2 separate regions of the Homo sapiens genome follow, and region 1 is linked to region 2. The links come from fine-mapping of genetic effects on gene expression. A gene starts in region 2. The other region holds a variant in brackets. All regions are shown on one strand. Distances are between the middles of the regions. Region 1 overlaps HMGCLL1 (3-hydroxy-3-methylglutaryl-CoA lyase like 1). Region 2 holds the start of HMGCLL1 (3-hydroxy-3-methylglutaryl-CoA lyase like 1).

Region 1 (2,921 bases), 120 kb before region 2:
TTTGGTATTTCATTTTAAATTAAAATCATCCTGTAAACAAGACAAGGTAACCATGATGTTATCAGAACTTAAAGCACCATGAAATTAGATCAAGATATAAGCAAAGTAATAGTTCATATTTTAAATGTAGGTACACTTGATTTGACTATTTAGACTGAAATAAACTAAAAAGTACTCAAGATAGTCAATAAAAAAGTGATTACTCTGGATGTTCCAAAATATATACCTGTGAAGAACTACTCAATAGCACCTTGCTAATGAAAACAATAATATCTCTAGTTTTAGAAGAAGACAATTAAGTAGCAGGAAAAAATAAAAAAGAATATAATTCAGGTTGATTGTTAACTAATATGGCAGTAGGGTCATATGATTCATTGTGGTCCATATAAATGACATTCCTACCAAATACAGCAAATCAACACCAAACAATCTTTCCAGACCATCAGATATGCCATATATTCATGCGATTATGGGGTTTTTGGGTAATTCTAATGCCAAATTCTGTCAAAAATTAGGATAAATAAATAAGGAAGACTATATGACAATACCTCATAAATGTGGAAATGTGGTAAGAAAGACTGCTTTCCTTCTCTATGCTTACCTTTCTAAAACATGAATTACTCCTCGTCTAAAATGCTGCCATCTGCTCTCTTGGGACCTTCCCTTTCTTAAAATTCTCATCTTTATCTGTTGCAACTACATACGAAATAACTTCCTTCCTTCCTATGCTCACCATGTATGCTCATGTCTTCAGTCCGTGGGTTTGTTCCCTTTCTCAATTATACCACATCTTAGCTGTCTCCCCTGCCCCCATGACCTCTCTCCCTCACATATCTGCCTTCACACCCTATTTTGGGAATAACAACTGCATGATTTTAATTTGTCCAGAAATTTAAATTTAAATTTTCTAGAGACTTTAATTTTTCTAGAGACTTAAGTTTCAAAACATAATCCATATATATTGTGCCAATAGAATCTTATAAATTATTTAAACGTATCTAACCTAGAGCATGCAAATAATTATTAGACTTAGAGCATTTAATGAAAATGCCAGCCATCTTTACCTGTGCTTAGGTAAGCTGCCATAGAAAGGTCTAATAATTATTTTGAACACCACTTACTATTAAACTAATTATACAAACTTCTTATGTTGTAGGTATAACTCACATATATCAGTTTTCTAGGTAGTATATTGCTGCTATACATTTCAGTCAATAGGCTTCTCAGGAGTAGTTAACTGCAGAACGTGTAGACACAGCACTGACTCCATCACAATTAAAAACATCGTTTATGTAAAGGAAAGTTGTGCATGAAAGGTACAAGGAATCGCCCCAGAACTGGAACAATATGTAGGGTCAAAACTCACAAAGGAGTTATGCTGGGCTTTTGGTGTTGAGTCCAATCTTTTCTTTTTTCTTTCTTTTTTTTTTTTTTTTTCTGAGATGGAGTCTTGCTCTGTTGCCCAGGCTGGAGTGCAGTAGCGCAATCTCGGCTCACTGCAACCTCCGCCTCCTGGGTTCAAGCAATTCTCCTGCCTCAACCTCCCGAGTAGCTGGACTACAGGCACATGCCACCATGCCTGGCTAATTTTTTTCTATTTTTAGTAGAGACGGGGTTTCACTATGTTGGCCAGGCTGGTCTCGAACTCCTGACCTCAGGCAAACCGCCTACCTCGGCCTCCCAAAGTCATGGCATTACAGGAGTGAGCCACTGTGCCC[G/A]GCCCCAGTCTTTAGCTGAGAAGAGAGATAAATGATACATGAAAAAGTGGCCCTTACAATGTGAAAATTGCATGGTTATTTAAAAATAAATTTTAAAAGATGTTATATTTCATGATTTAAGTTATTTACTCTTATGCCTCAGGTTTCTTTAGAACTCTCTACTAAAGAGAATATTCCAGAAAAGTTATTCTAAAATATACAAATTTCCTAAGAGCCTCCTGAAGTGAAATAAATTGTAATACAACTGCTTCAAAATATAATAATACAAATATAACATTTTTGGCTTCAAACATTGGGGCAACTGCAGACATTTACATATTTGAAACTAAATGTCTACTTTCCTCTTTTCCTAAATCTAGTAACCCCTAGGCATCTCTCCAGATGGAATAATCATGGAAAGAAAGTGAGCTTTGTTTGTTGTTCTGTTTTTGATTGAGCTGTCCGTTTTTCTGCTCCACGTATTCCTGCTTTCCTGAGAGAATAGTTGGGATATACTTTCAGAATAAAATATTTTCAACCTCTTTTGAATGTTTTAAGTCTCACCTCCAGGGCAATACTTTGTATGCACAGAATCATAAAAAAAATAGGAAGAAAAAATGAGAATATAAAACAGGTAGAAGTCCAGAAACCACCCAACGCTTTAGACTGAAATATTTTGATAATAGCTTGTTTCATTCCTCACTTGTTCATACTCTTTGAATTTTAAATATTAAATTGGTAAAGGGGCTCTGTAGAATTATCTAGAATTAACATTTTGAAAGATATGCATGTTGAAGGACAATAGCTGTGAATAATATTAACATTAAATTCCAAGAGAATTTAATTCTCTTAATTTACTAATGTACAATATCAACTGAAAGCATAATTAAATCTGTCTATGTCATAGATTTTTATAAAGATAATTTACTGTCTTAAAAAATCTCACAAGATTATTTTAGATAAAAATATTAGACTCCTAGTTGCAAGTAGAAATCATATTGAAAAGGAAAAAGTGAAAGATGTAAAAATTCTATCCTGCAACCATAACACTAACTAATGTGACTTTTAGTGGTTTAATTATTTTTTGAGTTTAAAAGGCCGTTTCTACTGCCAGGCTTCTGTGTACATACATGGATAACCACCTCCAGGATATTTTTAATAAATATAACCTACTACCAAGTTCTCCAAAACACAAGCAAATTGCATGACAATAATTAGCCTCAC
Region 2 (2,921 bases):
TAAACTGAGAATACACAATAGAAAATGAATATTTTATATTAGAATAGTTGATTTAAATCCACATGGTACAATTATGCTTAATGACTAAAATATTACAATAACAGAAGTTATTTTGTTCACTAGTCGAATCAGAAATAATCTTGTATCCAGCACCTGTAATTTAACAAGAAGTCCTCACAGTGCTCCTCCTTTATTCCATGTTTCAACATTTTCATAACAATTATCAGTTATTTAATATTTTGTGGAATTTTAGATTTTCAAGTTTTTTAAGGAAAAAGTTAATTTCTTTATACACCTTTTCTTTATTTATCTGACACTGGTTAAGAGTGCATTAAATCATAAGTATATGAATAATATTAAGTTGCCTATTGTCTTAACATGCCCTTTCAGGAACAATGTGGGAATAAATTTTAGTCTGAAATTGCTGTTATTTACACTTTCTTTCAAGTTTGTTGAAGCACAAATACATTTGGGATAATTAATGTTCTGATGGATTATTTCATCCTACTATGTCTTCTTAACCTTCTACCGGTTTCATTCCTTTTTCTGCCTCACATTGTGACAAATTTGTAGTCTTTGTTACACAGTACAAGGAGCACTGAGAATAAGGGCGGTATCCTTGAAGGAATACCTATGAATACAAATTGTATTACGTAATGCATCCCTTTCCAGGAAAACACAGAGAAGGAATTCTTTTCTTTAGGCGACCAGCAAATGGTCACAGGCAGGGATTTTGCAGGGTCTGATCTGTAGAGGCGGGTCGATACATTCACCGAAGAGAGATAACGGGAAACCGTTTAAGGGGTGCGGCCTAACACGACAGAACTGCTGCGGGAAGGGTCCTGGGGTGAGGAGGTGACATAAAGGGAGGAGGGCACCAAGAGGTTGCAGGGAGAGAGGCTGGCTGTCAGTGTGCGCATGAGGGTGGGGACACCCTGGGCCGCGAGGTGGTACCTGCGCGGGGTCGAGCGCCCCTGCCACTGAATCCCCGATCCAGAGATGCTCCCGGAGAAGCTGCTGGTAGCTGAGGCAGTGCTTCACCGCGGATGGCACATTCCCCATGGCGGAGCCTGGGGCGGCAGTCGGCGAGGGGAGGGAGACTGGAGGAGGATGAGGGGCGGGCACCGCGCTGGGAAACTGCGCCAGCTCGGGAGCGCGCCCCTCCGGTGCACTGGCTGTGAGGACCAGAGCTGTTCTGCGCACTGCGGCGGCGCCGAGAGGGCGGGGAGTGGGGCGTGGCAGGTGGCCGCGCCTGGGGCAGCGGGTGCACGGGGCACCTGCGGGAATCGACAGAAATGCCGAGCACCTGAACAGGAGAGAAAGGAGCTGAGCCAGAGGATGTCCAGGGGTGTCTCATTTTCCGCACTACACTGAGCGCCCAGGGCTGACTGTATCTTAACGTGCCCACCTACTTCTCACCTGGCATAGATCAGGTGTAGAAGAAAAGGGGTCTAAAATAAAAGGAAGGGGCGTGAGTGTTTATGTTGATGAGTTCGTTCATTCCCAGCTGCAGCCTTGGGTGCTCAAGTGTAGATTTGCCTACCGTTGAGCTCACGGAGTTTATGCTTTATAACAATAAGCTCTATTTAAAAATGTTTTTGAGGCAATCAGCAAGGTTAAAACATATCCAACAGTCTAATGAAAAGGAAAAGATAGTCTTAAATTAGGTTACATGTCAGAGGTACTCTCAGAGGTACGTTCCTAAATGAGAGGTAAGCTGTAAGTTGGTGCTGCGGTTAAGCGCTGAAATGGAACTGCGTGTTTAAAAGTCTCATGGCACAAAATTATTAAAGCCCTAAGGACTAGATTTATCCAAACGGAAAATTCTATACAAGTTCTTAGGATATTAGAATTGGAGACATTTTTAGTGGAAGAGAGGGTTTGAAAAAATAGCCTTCGAGCAGACCACCGGCCTACCTTCCCCCCCTCACTTTCACATGTAAACTTACGTGTATTGTCACACCCTAATAATCTTCGCAGTGGGTTCAGTGGTTTGCAGCTAAAATGACATAGTCATCAAGAATAGTCTCGTGCAGGATACCTAGGGTCTTCCGGAGACCCAGCCAGGGTGTCCATGGCCAGGAATACGCATCAGCCCTGGTGGCTGATGGAGCAAATGTAAACCAGGAGCCAACCGATGCACACCGTAGTATAAACACACAGAAGAAATTTACCATTCAAAGTCAAACCATCCTTACCACTTGTGTGTTGCATGGGTGGGGGTTTGGGGGGTGGGCAGTGAGACTTCCACAGGTAATAAAAATAAATGGGTTAAGGGAGGAAAAAGACAAAGAGTGGAAGAGAAATCGTGTAGATCCTTCGGTAAAACTGCACTAGAAAGGGCAAAGAGGATGAGGAGGTCATAGTCTTCTTCTCACAGTTAACCAAGGATTTTTTTTTTCTTTTTTCTTTCTTTTTTTTTTTTTTTTTTTTTTTTTTTGAGACGGAGTCTCGCTCTGTCGCCCAGGCTGGAGTGCAGTGGCGCGATGTCGGCTCACTGAAAGCTTCTCCCCCCAGGTTCACGCCATTCTCCTGCCTCGGCCTCCCCAGCTGCTGGGACTACAGGCGCCGGCCGCCACGCCAGGCTAATTTTTTGTATTTTTAGTAGAGACGGGGTTTCACCGCGTTAGCCAGGATGGTCTCGATCTCCTGACCTCGTGGTCTGACCTCCTCGGCCTCCCAAAGTGCTGGGATTACAGGGGTCAGCCACCGCGCCCAGCCGGATGTTTAACCTGGAGAACATTCCCTGAACTGCTAAAGTGAAGTTATCCAATTCCTGGATGCGCTTAAAACTCTGTAAAGCACCAAAACTCCGGTTGTTATTTACCTAAGCATGACTATCATATAGGTGTACATTCATAGAGCTAAATCTATTAGCTGTACCAGCAGAGCTCAGCTGTTAGTTATTGTTCCACTGCAAG

Evidence for each region. PIP is the estimated chance that this variant, and not a neighbour inherited with it, causes the effect.
Region 1: its variant is the best candidate, but not a certain one, in a credible set for the expression of HMGCLL1 in gastroesophageal junction (GTEx, PIP 0.77).

The regions. Positions count from the first base shown.
Region 1 is chr6:55,461,610-55,464,530 of GRCh38, forward strand. The region is part of intron 7 of HMGCLL1 (3-hydroxy-3-methylglutaryl-CoA lyase like 1); the gene reads right to left. Among named protein-coding and RNA genes, the nearest start is that of HMGCLL1, 120 kb to the right of the region's middle. The variant G/A (reference allele first, on the strand shown) is at 1,719.
Region 2 is chr6:55,577,994-55,580,914 of GRCh38, forward strand. HMGCLL1 (3-hydroxy-3-methylglutaryl-CoA lyase like 1) reads right to left here and starts at 1,199. Exons shown (of 9, transcript NM_001042406.2): 1 at 955-1,199. The coding sequence starts at 1,062.